Linked DNA regions of Homo sapiens. The protein of the gene in region 1 purifies or fractionates together with the protein of each later gene. This does not show direct contact. Each region holds a gene or a part of one and is shown in the gene's direction. Other genes may lie near its edges.

Region 1 (4,215 bases):
GTCAGGCCGGGTGGGGCTGGGTGCGGTGGCTCTGCAGAACCTTTAGGCACCGAACTGAAGCCGCGGGTCCGGTGCGCGGACACTGCGCAGGGCGCTGCTACCGACTCACATGCATGCGAGGGCCCGCTCCTAGGCGTTCTGCCTTCCTGGACGGATTGTTGGTAAAACGTCCCCTAGAACGGCCGGAGCCAGGGCCCTCGGACAGGGGCGCGAAGGGCCCGCTCTTTGCCGTCCTCGGGTTTCCCAACGCGGTGGTCGTGGCCCGCGGGCCCCACCTCGCGGCCCGCCTGGCCGGCCGGAGGAGCAGCGGAGGCCGAGCACTCCCCGGTCTCGGGTTCAACTTCAATAAAAGGGCCCAGCCCGCCCTTGATCACGCGGCTTGCCTGACAGCCCGGCTCAGGCCCGGGCCTAATTGAGCCCGGGTCACCTGGGAATAGGTTCAAAGGCATCAAAGCCGTAAAAACCACCTCCAGGCCCAGAGCCAGAGCGGCCTGGCGAACAAAGAGCCCCCCAACCACTTCAAACGCGCTCGCGCTCGCCGTCCAGATGGCCCGGGGCCGGGGTCCGTGGTGTCGCTCACCGAGGCCGGGCCCCACACTCCAGCCACCCTGAGCCTCCTGCTCGGAGCTGCCCGCGGGCTGCCAGCGCAGCGGAGGCTGGGCCCGGGGCAGCCTCGTGCAGCTCCCGGAGCGCCCTCCGTCCTCTGCTGACCCGCGAAGCGAAGGCGGAGCGCAGAGGCTGGGGCCGTACAAGGCGGGCCGGCAGGCGCCCCAACCCGCGCCCAGCAACCCGGGTAGGGCCAGGCAGGCGGGCGCGGCGGGTACCGGGCGCTCCCGCAGAGGCTCGCTGTGGCGTTGTTTTAAAGCTGTTAGAAGGAAGGTTCGGGAAGGGCGTCGGGGCCGGGGCTCCCCAGCAAGCCAGGGTAAGAAATGGTCCCCGACACGCACGCTGGCCGAAGGGTGGCATCTCCACGGATCTTGGCGGCATGTCCTTGGGCACGGGCGTCTCCAGGGGGCCCCGACTGTCCTTACACTGGCGGTCCGGACACCGAGACCCCTGCCCGCGCAGCTCCCCAGACCCCAGGCCTAAGCTTGCGGGCCGCGGTGCAGACTAGCTGTGCGCCCGGGGGCGGCCAAGACCCACACAGGTCGAGGAGGCTCCTGGCTGCGTCCTCATCTTCTGGGAGCGCATCTGGGACTGGACTCGCCTCTCTAGCCCCTCACGCCCAGAGAGAGAACCCCCCAAAGCCCAGTGGGGGCCGATCTCTACGTTGAGGCGTAGACAAAGCCAGGCTTGGCCGGGCCTAGGGCTCGGGGCGGCCTGAGAGTGCCCTGCGTTCGGGGTGGGGGCGCGGGCGGCGGGCGAGGACCCGGCCCCCGGGATGCCCTCCGCGCCGGGGCCGAAGGGGGAGGCAAAACTGAAAGTGCCGCGCCGGGGGGCGGGGGCGGCCGGCGAAGGCCCCAGAACTTGTCCTGCCCCCGGCCACCGCGGCCAATCAGCGCGCCGCCCTAGCTCCTGACAACTATTTAGCAACCCAGCCCAGCTAGAGTTTCCAAAAAAGTTAGAATAACTTCCTCTCCCGGAGACCTCGGTTTTGCACAAGCCGGCCTTGAAATCAGAGCCTTTCCAGCAACTCCGAGAGCGTGTGCTCGGCGACCGCGGGCTTGGCCAGCGGCGCGCGCTCGGCGCCCCGGCGCCCCCAGCCCCACGCGCGCCGGGCGGGCGCCATGGAGGAGGGCTCCAGCTCGCCCGTGTCCCCCGTGGACAGCCTGGGCACCAGCGAGGAGGAGCTCGAGAGGCAGCCCAAGCGCTTCGGCCGGAAGCGGCGCTACAGCAAGAAGTCGAGCGAAGATGGCAGCCCGACCCCGGGCAAGCGCGGCAAGAAGGGCAGCCCCAGCGCGCAGTCCTTCGAGGAGCTGCAGAGCCAGCGCATCCTGGCCAACGTGCGCGAGCGCCAGCGCACCCAGTCGCTCAACGAGGCCTTCGCGGCGCTGCGCAAGATCATCCCCACGCTGCCCTCTGACAAGCTGAGCAAGATCCAGACGCTCAAGCTGGCCGCCAGGTACATAGACTTCCTCTACCAGGTCCTGCAGAGCGACGAGATGGACAATAAGATGACCAGCTGCAGCTACGTGGCCCACGAGCGCCTCAGCTACGCCTTCTCCGTGTGGCGCATGGAGGGCGCGTGGTCCATGTCCGCCTCCCACTAGCGCCGCGCCACCCACCTCCGGACCGGCGCGCCAGGGTAGGTGCTGCGCGCGCGACGGGCGCCCTCCGCTGCGGGGGGCGGGCGGCAGGGGCGCAGGGGCATTGGGGCCTGCTCGTGTCTCCTCGGCGAGGCCCCGCGGGCCGCGGGGGCTTGGATGCCGTGCGCTTTTCCTCTTAGCAAGGAAGGCGGGCGGGCGGGACGCTCACAGTCCCAGGGACACCCCTGAGTGCAGACTTCCACGCGAGGGTGTCAGTTGGGAACCGGCGGACCGGTGACTCCCCCGGCGGGTTCTGAAGATACTTAGACAGATGGTCGCAGTTTTCATTCTCGGTGGTGTGTGGGTGTCCGTGGTTGGCGGTGGAAGGAGCGAGCATCAGAAAAACCTCCTGGGGCCGGCTGGGGACTGGGATATGAGGACCAGCTGCCCTTTGCGTCCGCCGCAGCGCAGGCCGCCCGCGAAGCTGCCCGAGCCGGGTGTTGCCGGGCGAATGGCTTCGCTTTCTTCCTGGGCAAGGGTAGAGCGCGTCCGTCGGGCGGACACTCAGATCTACCCAGCTGCTCGCGCCTGGGGTCCCCGGCCGTCGGCGCCCTGGCCTGCCCAGTGGGCGTAGAGGTGCGGGCCTGCGGCTCCAGGGTTTGCCTGGGGAGGACGGGAGGAAACTGCCCTGCGCTTCGGGGCCAGAGCAGCCACAGGGCCGGGTGTGCCCGAGAAGGGCCCTGGGCCGAGAGCGCAGAGCCTGGAGCGCTGAGGCAGGCGGGTCCGACGCAGCCGCGCGGAGCCCCAGGGCGCCCGCAGGCAGGTGGAGCTGACCTAGGAACTGGGAGCCCTGAGTCCCAACCTTGACCCTGGAGTACCCGGGAGGGGCCCCGCCCATCCAGCCCCGCAGGGATGGGCGAGGGGTCCAGGCTGGGAAACGGGTCTGGGGGACAGGGAGGCTGTGCGCGCCGGGCCCTGCGCGAGGAGAAGGCTCGGGGGACACAGCTGCCAGGAGCACTCCAAGTTCTGGTTTCCTCTGGAAGAGCGATTAGGGCGTCCTGCACCGGGTCCTTTTCACCAGACACCTTCCAAGTCCCTTTAGACAAGCTCGAGCCACGGAGGCGCCGTCCTTAGGCTCTGTGAGCAGGCGAGCCCCTCTCTCATCCGCCATCCAGGGCCATGGAGGGGCACAGAGTTCTTTTTGCTGGGGCCGAGTTAAAAATCCTTCCCCCTTAGTATGTTTTAGTTCCTCGCACATCTTGCGATGTTTTTATAAAAGACTCTACTTCACACAGAAGGAATTTAGATTAATCAAGAGCACCCGGCCGCCTATTCTCCCAAACATATCTATTTCTTTTTTTATGTGGTTCTATAATATCTGCGAATGTTGTTGCTGAGGCCACGAAAAGCTGATCCAGCACAGGTGGGTTTTATTTCATTTTTTTAGCTTTTATTTTGGTGTCACTGAAAATTCTGTAGCTGCAGAGCCTCCTGAGATAATGATAATTGTATAGTTTTTAAAAAATAATTTTCAGCAGAAAATAACTTGTGGGAATCTTCTCCTGTCTTTGTCAAAAACAGATGGAAAGTGTCTCAATCACATATTTCTCTAGGAAAGTTTGGATTGGCTGAGTACTAAACGCTACAGTGGGGTAATACATTAATTCTGGTTTTTGCTGCCTAAATAATGAGCTTCCATTAGTTACTTCCATTTATGCTTTACCTCATTCATGGTTTATAGCACATCTGAAATAAGAACAAACAGATGAGGAATGTCATCTTTTTAAAAACACACACATTGAGCCGTGTTTAAGGAAAATGTCACTTTAATTATCGTTAAGACTGCCCTCCAGAAAATTACTGAAAACAAATACCAGTAGATATGATGCTGCTAGAATTTAGTAGGAACATTTAAAATTCATTTAAAAATAATCGCACTCCTCAAAACTTAGAGAATCAGCCATAGGTAACCATTAAAGATTATAGAAAAATAAAATGCAATACATGTAATAAATAAATAAAAACAGTG
Region 2 (2,851 bases), on another chromosome or scaffold:
AACAGTGATGCAATATACGCAAGCTGCACAACCTGTATATTGTATGCATTGCTGCGTGGAGGCTGTTTATTTCAACCTTTTTAAAAATTGTGTTTTTTAGTAAAATGGCTTATTTTTTCCCAAAGGTGGAATTTAGCATTTTGTAATGATGAATATAAAAATACCTGTCATCCCCAGATCATTTAAAAGTTAACTAAAGTGAGAATGAAAAAACAAAATTCCAAGACACTTTTTAAAAGAATGTCTGCCCTCACACACTTTTATGGATTTGTTTTTCTTACATACCCATCTTTTAACTTAGAGATAGCATTTTTTGCCCTCTTTATTTTGTTGTTTGTTTCTCCAGAGAGTAAACGCTTTGTAGTTCTTTCTTTAAAAAACATTTTTTTTAAAGAAGAAGAAGCCACTTGAACCCTCAATAAAGGCTGTTGCCTAAGCATGGCATACTTCATCTGTTCTCATTTGTGCCATCTGCCGTGATGTCGTCACTTTTATGGCGTTAATTTCCTGCCACTACAGATCTTTTGAAGATTGCTGGAATACTGGTGTCTGTTAGAATGCTTCAGACTACAGATGTAATTAAAGGCTTTTCTTAATATGTTTTAACCAAAGATGTGGAGCAATCCAAGCCACATATCTTCTACATCAAATTTTTCCATTTTGGTTATTTTCATAATCTGGTATTGCATTTTGCCTTCCCTGTTCATACCTCAAATTGATTCATACCTCAGTTTAATTCAGAGAGGTCAGTTAAGTGACGGATTCTGTTGTGGTTTGAATGCAGTACCAGTGTTCTCTTCGAGCAAAGTAGACCTGGGTCACTGTAGGCATAGGACTTGGATTGCTTCAGATGGTTTGCTGTATCATTTTTCTTCTTTTTCTTTTCCTGGGGACTTGTTTCCATTAAATGAGAGTAATTAAAATCGCTTGTAAATGAGGGCATACAAGCATTTGCAACAAATATTCAAATAGAGGCTCACAGCGGCATAAGCTGGACTTTGTCGCCACTAGATGACAAGATGTTATAACTAAGTTAAACCACATCTGTGTATCTCAAGGGACTTAATTCAGCTGTCTGTAGTGAATAAAAGTGGGAAATTTTCAAAAGTTTCTCCTGCTGGAAATAAGGTATAATTTGTATTTTGCAGACAATTCAGTAAAGTTACTGGCTTTCTTAGTGATGCAGTGTCCGTGGTGCATTTTTTTAAATTAATGTTTTGCTGTTTAAATTTATTCAATTTTATTGTGTTTTTTAAAAAGCAGCTTATGCCACAAGCACAAATGAGCTTTCTCAGTTTTCAACTCAAAATATTATATGAAAAGATGGATATGTGTGTCTGTGTGGGAGGGGTGTGAATTGGATGACGGTTCTTAGGGTATTACAGAATTCAGCCAGTGGTGGAAGTCTAAGGTTCTTATTGAATGGTTCAACTTCTTTATCAAAGAAGTTCCATGAAGATCTTTGATAACCTGTTTAAATGTACAGAATTTTTCAAAAGCCACTGTGAAAAGCAGTACCATAAGTTATTTTTTAACTAAAATCTGTAGAAAGTGTTTCCAAAAGAGTTCCTTTTTTCTTCTTCGAAGTAATTTCTAAAAGTTGAAAACATAGGCTTATAAATCTGAATAAATTAGTGAATTCATACATTTTAGAGACTATCAAATATATCCATTATTAACATTCAATAATAATCTCTAAAGGGGAATGTCCTTAAAAAGATTGATAGAAAGATTAATTTAAAAACTGAAAAGGAAAACAAGACACCACCAGTTAGCCAGCTGGAGAACTTGGACTTTTGCATTAGTAGTGATATCTGCTCCAAAAAGAATGCAGTTCGAGGAAATGTTGCATGTGGCTTCAAAATAGCAGTGCTTTCTGCTTTGTTCTCTTGTATTCATTTTCAGCAAACATGTATTAAGCAATTATTATATGTAACTCATGTGGTGATTCCAGGATGAATGAAGTTGTAGCCCTTTCTCTTAGGAAACTTATAAACTAATAGGAGATAAAAGGCATTCTCAGGGAAGTCTACAAAGTGCTATGAGGGAGCCACTTTGGCCATCCTGGGGCAGAGCAGACCAGAGGCTCAGAGCATGGACACTTCCTCATCCACCCAGCAGAAGCCTTTCACTTGATTTTGAAGGTGGGCAGGATTGAGAAAGGCCCAGAAGGGGATGAGTTCAAAGCTGTTTGTGGGCATGTGACCCCTGCAGTCACATATGGCCCTAGCTTGTGTTTCGTTTAGTGTTCTGCTATCATTATCCTGATAATATCCTGATAATAAAATTATCCTTAATAATTTTATATTTGAGTTTGAATGTTGTAAGCAAAGTCCTGTAGGACAATAGAGCATGTGCCTGAACAGAAGAGATACACAGGAAAAAGTGAACTGTTTTATATTTTAGTACCTTTAACAGAGAGAACCTTTTATTTCACTTTTTCAACAAGGACTTCCACATTTTCATTCTGCACTGGGCCCTGGAATCATGACACCATCCCTGGATGTGGGCATTTCACAGGGAAGAAATAGTAGATACAAAGGTACAGAGATGGGAAAGCAAGAGACAAACTTACAGGAATTGTGGGCCTTTCTATTTACGTAAAGTGTAGCCGTGTGTAGGGGAGCAGTGAGACAAGACTGGAAGAGTTAGTTTGCCTCTGATTATATAATCGCAAATTTAAAAGAGTTAGGTTTAAGCAAGTAATTGAAAGATTTAGGAGAGAGAAAATTGTCAGAATTCAGTAAATGGTTAGATTAATGGTAGGAGTGGTGATAGATAAGGAATTGTTAAAGTTTACAGTTTTAGGCTTAAATGATTAGGATCCTAGTAATGTCCAAACTGGAAATTG
Region 3 (3,783 bases), on another chromosome or scaffold:
GAGTGCCTCAGGTGTGAGCCACTGCCTGAGGGTTGCCTGGGCTGGCCTCGCCTTCCAGCTGCCAGGGACTTCGGTCCTCATGGGAGAGTGGCCTCCTGGGCTGCACCTGGCAGTGTTGGGCTGCCCTGGCCAGGAGGGGTAGGGGCCCACCTTGCTGTGGCCTGAGCTCCCACCCTGCCCCGGCACTGCTTCTGGATGGCGAGCGCAGTGCTGGGCTGCCGGGGCGGCTGGGTGGGCCCCTGGGGTTGGGCTCTGGGGCGCAGGTGCCCACGCGGGCCCTGGTGCTTCACATAGGTGTGGTCCCAGGAAGATGCTCTCGGTCATCCCAGCCTCCAGCAGCTGTGGCCTCTGTTTGGGGTGTGGGGCTGATGGGATTGGAGACGTGCTTCAGTTTATGAGCTCCTCAGGAGAGTTCCTCCAGCCCAGACCCTGGCAGGAAGGGCCTGTGGGAGTGGTGGGGCAGGAGACGGGCCATGGCAGGAAGAGGTCATGGGCACTCACAGGCTCCTGGAAGCAGGCGCACCTGGACATCGTGTCCTTCAGGACATGACATCTCATGGTCATTGAGACTGGCTGCCCCCAGAAAGCATTCCCTCCCCATTGTTCCCAGAGGGTTCAGTCCTGCTGCTTGTCCATGCCCTCGCTCACCCAGACCCTGGTGGGACACCTGGGGTGTGGTCAAGTTTCCGAGGGTAAACAGCACAGCGTGGACCTCTCTGGCCACGCCTCTGCCCTAGCTGGTTTTCCTCTTCACACATACCCAGAGGAGGTCAGCACTGGGCCCTGCAAAGCTCCAGCCATACCCTCCAGCCAGGGGATTCCGTCTCCCTCATCGTTGCCTGAGGGCTCTCTGGTATCTGGGACGGAGCAGAAAGGCAAAGACATGAGTGTTTCCCAAACCCAGGGCCACAGCCAGCCCTTCAGAGTGTGTTCCCTAGGCCAGGTGCAGTGCCCCTCCTCCTGTAATCCCAGCACTTTGGGAGGCCGAAGTGGGAAGATTGCTTGAGGCCAGGTGTTCAAGACCAGTCTGGGCAACATAGGGAGACTTCATCAAAATTAACTGGGCATGGTGGTGGCGCCTGTGGTCCCGGCTACTCAGGGGGCTGAGGTGGGAGGATCACTGGAGCCCGGGAGGTCGAGGCTACAGTGAGCCATGATGGCACCACTGCTCTCCAGCCTGGGCAACAGAGCAAGACCCCGTCTCTAAACAACAACAAAGTGTGTTCTTGGGGAGGGAGCTGAGGCCGGGGACCGCAGCATGGCCGGGAGAGCTTGGAGTTTGGGGCTCGTTGGGGAGGGTGGGGGGCGCTGTGGCTTTCCCCACCCCCTGCTTAGTTCCATGTGTGATTTGGGACCTGCTGGGGCTGGCCTTGGCCATGGCCTCTCCTGGTGACCAGCAGGTGGGACCTCAAATTGCTCCTCCCCAAAAAAAGTCCTAGAAGCTTCCAGCTCCTCCTCCCCCTCCACCTCCCCCCCTCCCCCTCACCCATCTGTGCGCCTCTTCGGACCCTATGGCCCGGGAAGGCCACGAGCCCTTTTTCTGTTTGGTGGCTGCAGGCTCTGGGGTCTACATCACACGCGGCCAGCTGATGAACTGCCACCTGTGTGCAGGGGTGAAGCATAAGGTCTTGCTGCGGAGGCTCCTGGCCACCTTCTTTGACAGGTAGGTCGGGGCAGGAGTGCTGGAGGGCACAATGGAGCTGCGGAGGGTTCTGGCTCCTTTAGCTATGAGCTGTCTGATCGTCCAGGGTTGTGGCATTGAAAGCCCTCTCGCATTCCTGACTTCAGCCGTGGCCGGTCGGCCCCAGGACGGTGGAGAGGCTCCCAGGGAGGGAGGGAGGGGCTGTCTTTCGTGGCCTTTCTCAAACGGGCTTGTGGATGCAACCCCCACAACAGAAAAATGAAGAGCCACACTTATTCTGTTGTGCTGATGGGCCAACAGAACCCTTCCCGAGGACACAGCGGCTTCCTCAGACGTCCCCGGAGTCCCTGAGGACAAGGCTCAGGTCACCTTGCAGCCCCATCACCCGGTCATCTTCTCAGCCCAGACGCTTTTCCTTTGTCCTGTCCCTTAGAGGGTGGCTGGGCCGGCTCCTGCCACTGGGACACACGCAGACCAGCCAAGGGTGAGGCCAAGTGGCCTCCCAGCAGGGCATTCGTGCGGGCGGGTCGCCTCCAGGTACCCTCCCCATCATCCTCACCCTGCCTGCCTTTCCGGTCCCTCCACCAGGAACACGCTGGCCAACAGCTGCGGGACTGGCATCCGCTCGTCCACCAGCGACCCCAGCCGGAAGCCGCTGGACAGCCGGGTCCTGAACGCTGTGAAATGTAAGAGCCTGGGGGTCTCTCGGGTGGGTGGGGCCGGGGCTGGGTTCAGATCCCAGCCTGAGGAGGACTGGGTGGGCCGCGGGGGTGCTCCCGGCCACCTGCAGCTTCCGTCCCTGGGGGCCGAGCATGGTCTGATTGAGGGGAAGATGAGGAGAAAAGAGCAGCTCTCAGAAGCCAGGTCTCGAGGTGTTAACGTTCTTGGTAGGTTTCCAAGTGTGATGAATTCAGCTGCGAAACTATTTTAATATGTGAAATAGATCTAATTTTCCTTTTTGAACAAAACCCCTTATTTACATTTTGCGGTTATTTTGAGCCTTTGCCATCTGTTCGGCCGGCTTCTGCCTCCCGCTCTTGGGCGTGTGGGGGCGGAGCCCGGTCCATCTCCAGGGCAGACCGCCGCCCCCGGCCCGCGCCCCAGATGTGGAAGATGCTGACTGCTGCCGGCTCGCACCAGGTGGCCAAGAGCACAGCCTCCTGTGGCCCTCGGCCCAAGAAGCACTATCTTGTTTTCTTCCTAAAAAAAAGAAAAAAAAAAAAAAAAAAAAACCTTGTGAGGCAAATTCTGTTTTAGAGCAAAAAGGGGCCTTTGCAGCCAGGAATTACAGTCCCCAAGTGTGGGGTGGCAGCCGAGGCTCTGGGAAGATTCTGGGAGGGACCGAGGTGGACGTGGCCCCTGGGACCTGCCTCTGGGTTTGATGCCGTTGGGAGGAATGACCCGGCCTTGGCCTGGGCTCCTGCCAGAGAAAGGAGGCGAGTGTTGCTGAAGTGATGGCTTCTGTCACTCCCCTCCTCCAGGCTGGGACTGGGACGGGGAGGGGTGTGTTATTCCCGAAAGGGGGACCCTCTGACCAGTTCCCGTTAGCCGTTGGGGCTACGGAAGCCCGGAGAGATTAAAAACAGGCCTGAGCCTCACAGCTGGCGGACGGCCAAGGCTGCTGGGCCTGACCAGGCCAGAGACTGTTCCAGAGGAATGGGGTGGGGAGGCCTCCCAGGCCGAGCAGTGAGAAACGTGACCTCTGGTCTTCTGGCTGAGGCCAGGAGAGCCCCAGGTGGTCACATGGGCCCCAGGAGCGGCCGGGGAGGCTCATCCAGGGCATCATGGTTCTGTGGCCTTGGGGAGGGGCGGGCCTCCCGGCAGGCAGGTGGCTGAGCTCACGCCGCCCCGTCCTCACAGTGTACTGTCAGAACTTCGCCCCCAGCTTCAAGGAGAGCGAGATGAACGTGATCGCCGCGGACATGTGCACCAACGCCCGCCGCGTTCGCAAGCGCTGGCTGCCCAAGATCAAGTCCATGCTGCCGGAGGGCGTGGAGATGTACCGCACGGTCATGGGCTCCGCCGCCGCCAGCGTGCCCCTCGACCCCGAGTTCCCGCCTGCCGCGGCACAGGTGTTCGAGCAACGCATCTACGCCGAGCGGCGGGGCGACGCCGCCACCATCGTGGCTCTGAGAACTGAC
Region 4 (3,783 bases), on another chromosome or scaffold:
TTTGTCTTTTACTCATCATGTCTGGGATTCATGCATGTTGTTGGATGTAGCAGCCATGTGTTCTTTTTCATCGCTGTATAGTATTCCATTATAAGAATTTTATTCATTCTACTGTTGATGGAAGATAGGATTTGTGTAGTATAGTTACCCTAAGGAATAAGCACCTGAGTAGAGAGCATTTTGAGAAGTCTGAGTGGTTCTACACCAGCAGGTGCATGATTGCACTGGTAGTGGTTGGTGATGCTATGGTCGTGCCCAAGACCAACTGTGTCCTGGAGGAATCAAAGTATGTGTTTGGTTGTCTTTGCCAGGGACTCCCAAAGACCACGACTCCCCTGAGAACGGTGCGGACAGCTTCGAGAGCTCAGACTCCCTCCTCCAGTCCTGGAACAGCCAGTCGTCCTTGCTGGATGTGCAACGGGTTCCTTCCTTCGAGAGCTTCGAAGATGACTGCAGCCAGTCTCTCTGCCTCAATAAGCCAACCATGTCTTTCAAGGATTACATCCAAGAGAGGAGTGACCCAGTGGAGCAAGGCAAACCAGTTATACCTGCAGCTGTGCTGGCCGGCTTCACAGGTGTGTGTGGAACTCCGAGAGCCTGGCCGCCCAGTCTCCTGGGTCCTGTCCCTTGCTTCCTTTCGAGCCACAGTACCACATTCACCGAGGGTGTTTCTAAGCTAGGTACACCAGTGCTCTACACTCCATGTTTTATGCGTGGCTTGCTGTATCTCTGAATTCGACAAAAGCCACACTTGGAGGAATTTTCATGTACACAGAGCTCCATGGAATGAGTGAAAATTGACAGGCCACTCCCTCCACCTGGGACGTTCTGAGGAATAGTTGGAGCAGGGGACATGGCCTGTGCAGTCTTCAGCCCTGACTCACCCACTCCAAGAATCTCAAAGAATGTAAACTGGCTTAGGGAGGGGCAGCAGAGCCAGTCTCAAATAATATGGGCACTGTTTACCTTTTCTTGCTTCTAAAATCTATCTGCTCTTATTTTTGAGGTTTGGGTGAGAGCTATTCTAGGCAGTGGACAAATATAAAGCTGTTTTTAGAAACAGGTATTTCCAGTACTTTAGCGAAAATACTGGGGCTTTGTTTTCACTGCTTCGTGTATCCTTAAATGCGTTTTTGTTTTTGTTTTTTTAACCATATGGAGCCACTGTGGATTGAAATTACCTAACTTAAAAAAATCTGATAAGTTTAAAATAAGGATACTGAGGCATTCATTCTTTTTCTGTCATCTAAGAACAATCAGCCACGTAAACGTATTAAAATACACGGAAAGAGTGTGTGAAAGCCATTATCGGTTTCATTATTGGGAGTTTAGGGCCTGAGAAGAATAAACAGCCATAACGTTAGTGTGGTTCATTTTAATAGTAACATAAGTTTCTGTTTATTGACTGCCAACTCTGTAGTTAAGTAGGCATACAGTCTGTAGGACAGCCTGGCATGGGGGTGGTATGAGGCCATTTTACAGATGGGGAAATTGGCTCACAGGCAGACAGCTATCGGTGCTCACACAGCTCTGGTTCTAGAATGCCTGTCCCGTGCTTTACAGCAAAGCTTTATTGATAACGGCCATTGCGTTTCTGAGGAAGAGCTATTTGGTAGAAAGAGGTTGGGCTTAGGGTCGGAAGATCTAGGCTCTTCTCCTGTTTGCTGTGATGGGCGTGTGATCCAGGACAAGGCACCTGGCCTCTGAGCCGCATCTTATCCCTCCTCTTTAGAACAGAACCACACTGACACCTGCTTTGCAAGGTGGTAGTTCTAAATGTCAATCGAGGACAGGTGGACGAGAAGCTCTTGGCAAAGCATGCTTCACCAGACAGAGGCTGTGAGGCAACGGGTGTGACCCCGCGTGGCTATTGAGTAAACCGGGCTCACATTAAGCAATTTACACATGGTCATTTGGCAGGAAGGTGGCATGGGATCCCACGTATGACACGCCTCATTCTGTGATGAAACACCCCCTCAGCCACCCCCATCTCTGCCCCACTGGGTGTTTCTAGAAAAAAACCTTGAAGGTTTTTACATAAGGAACAATTAAACCAGATGGGGAATTTTAATGCCAAGAGTTGGTGGCCCTAAACTTTCTTCCAGAAAGAACAAACCTAGCAATCAAGGGGAAGAGTGTCTCGCCTAGTGACCTTATTTTCTAGGAGTAGGCAGTGTGGAGCAGGAACTCACATTTGGTGCCCCGCCCCATCCCGTTAAAGCACTTAGTACTGTCACCAACACCTTGAGTGCCACCCTGAGTGTAACATCGGAACCCCATTCAGAGAGTTGGGTCTGCATTCCTAAATCAGCATGTACAATTAGGATGGTTAAAGACTTGCTGTATTTTACATCTGTGAAAGGGTATGATCCGTCTCCCTCCCTCTCCCCGCAGGAAGTGGACCTATTCAGCTGTGGCAGTTTCTCCTGGAGCTGCTATCAGACAAATCCTGCCAGTCATTCATCAGCTGGACTGGAGACGGATGGGAGTTTAAGCTCGCCGACCCCGATGAGGTATGGCCAGAGCCCTGGGAAATCTCTGGGCTTGAAAACCTGATTTCCTGCTTGCATTCAAAAACTCAGTTCTTTGGGCACAAAAAAGGGTTCACCAGTACTGCTGAGAATCTTTCCACGTGAGGCATCCTTGGCTGTTGGGAAAATGGAAGTGGAGTCATTGCTTTGTTGATAAACGTGTACAGTGTTTTCTGGGTATGCTTCATACAAGGGCGTTGCACAGATTTCACTGTCTTGATCAGTTGTCTGATCAAGAGGCCCAAGCTGCAAACTGAGGTTCTCTGCTGACCATCTGAAAATGCCTTAGGAAGGCTGCCCTTGTCCATCGGGGGAACAAGCCTCATGTGGCCCCGAGCCAGCCTTCTGTCCACTCCTTAGCTGAGCCCAGCAGTGTTGACCCCAGCCCTGCAGAGTTAGAACCAGGAGCCCTGTCTAAAGGAGAAGGCCAAGGGCAGGTGGGATACCAACCCCGCCAGAAAAGCGTTAGAGAGAAGCCCTTGGTCTCTGGCACTGGGGAGCGTAATCTGTCACCATTCCCACCCCGCCTCCAGTTCCCTTGGGAGACAAGCATTGAGGAATGAGTATATCACACAGCTCAGAATCCCACTCGGCACCTGTTAACTTCAGTAGTTGGAATATCCAGCCTGGAGGGTGGGTGACACCACCTTTCCCTGGTCTCAGGACCCTCCTGGCTCTGAACCCTTGGCTCCCAGGAGGTTTCACTGAGCTGGGGCCAGGGAGCAGGGACCTCATTCCCCAGTGGTTCTGCCCCTTGGGGACACAGTGCCCCTACCATAGGTACTCAAAGGTACTCAGAGGTACTCAAAAGGTCCTCCTGCGGACCTTGTGTAGGTGTCAAGTTCTCTCTAGAGTGAACATGCCTCAGAATCATAATCAGGGAGGAATGTCATTCACTTTTTCTTCATTGACAAATTGAGTTTAACTCTTTTCCATCCATGTTCACCAAAGGTGGCCCGCCGGTGGGGAAAGAGGAAAAATAAGCCCAAGATGAACTACGAGAAGCTGAGCCGGGGCTTACGCTACTATTACGACAAGAACATCATCCACAAGACGTCGGGGAAGCGCTACGTGTACCGCTTCGTGTGCGACCTCCAGAACTTGCTGGGGTTCACGCCCGAGGAACTGCACGCCATCCTGGGCGTCCAGCCCGACACGGAGGACTGAGGTCGCCGGGACCACCCTGAGCCGGCCCCAGGCTCGTGGACTGAGTGGGAAGCCCATCCTGACCAGCTGCTCCGAGGACCCAGGA

What was found. Proteins that work in one complex are often made in the same cells at the same time.
Region 2: the proteins of TWIST2 (region 1) and MEF2C purify together in Homo sapiens (affinity purification with western blotting, with the first as the bait; one study listed by BioGRID). This does not show direct contact.
Region 3: the proteins of TWIST2 (region 1) and NACC2 purify together in Homo sapiens (affinity purification with mass spectrometry; one large-scale study listed by BioGRID and IntAct). This does not show direct contact.
Region 4: the proteins of TWIST2 (region 1) and ETS2 purify together in Homo sapiens (affinity purification with western blotting; one study listed by BioGRID and IntAct). This does not show direct contact.

What each region holds. Positions count from the first base shown.
Region 1 is NC_000002.12:238,846,489-238,850,703, forward strand, and holds the start of TWIST2 (twist-related protein 2), read left to right. Parts: upstream 1-1,596; 5' UTR 1,597-1,727; coding exon 1,728-2,210; 3' UTR 2,211-2,245; exon of another isoform or gene 2,246-3,609; intron 3,610-4,215. UniProt on the Homo sapiens protein: Binds to the E-box consensus sequence 5'-CANNTG-3' as a heterodimer and inhibits transcriptional activation by MYOD1, MYOG, MEF2A and MEF2C. Also represses expression of pro-inflammatory cytokines such as TNFA and IL1B.
Region 2 is NC_000005.10:88,716,571-88,719,421, reverse strand, and holds the end of MEF2C (myocyte-specific enhancer factor 2C), read left to right. Parts: 3' UTR 1-2,305; downstream 2,306-2,851. UniProt on the Homo sapiens protein: Transcription activator which binds specifically to the MEF2 element present in the regulatory regions of many muscle-specific genes. Controls cardiac morphogenesis and myogenesis, and is also involved in vascular development.
Region 3 is NC_000009.12:136,011,744-136,015,526, reverse strand, and holds part of NACC2 (nucleus accumbens-associated protein 2), read left to right. Parts: intron 1-760; exon of another isoform or gene 761-1,014; intron 1,015-1,557; coding exon 1,558-1,663; intron 1,664-2,230; coding exon 2,231-2,328; intron 2,329-3,502; coding exon 3,503-3,783.
Region 4 is NC_000021.9:38,819,192-38,822,974, forward strand, and holds part of ETS2 (protein C-ets-2), read left to right. Parts: intron 1-311; coding exon 312-575; intron 576-2,394; coding exon 2,395-2,513; intron 2,514-3,482; coding exon 3,483-3,698; 3' UTR 3,699-3,783. UniProt on the Homo sapiens protein: Transcription factor activating transcription. Binds specifically the DNA GGAA/T core motif (Ets-binding site or EBS) in gene promoters and stimulates transcription.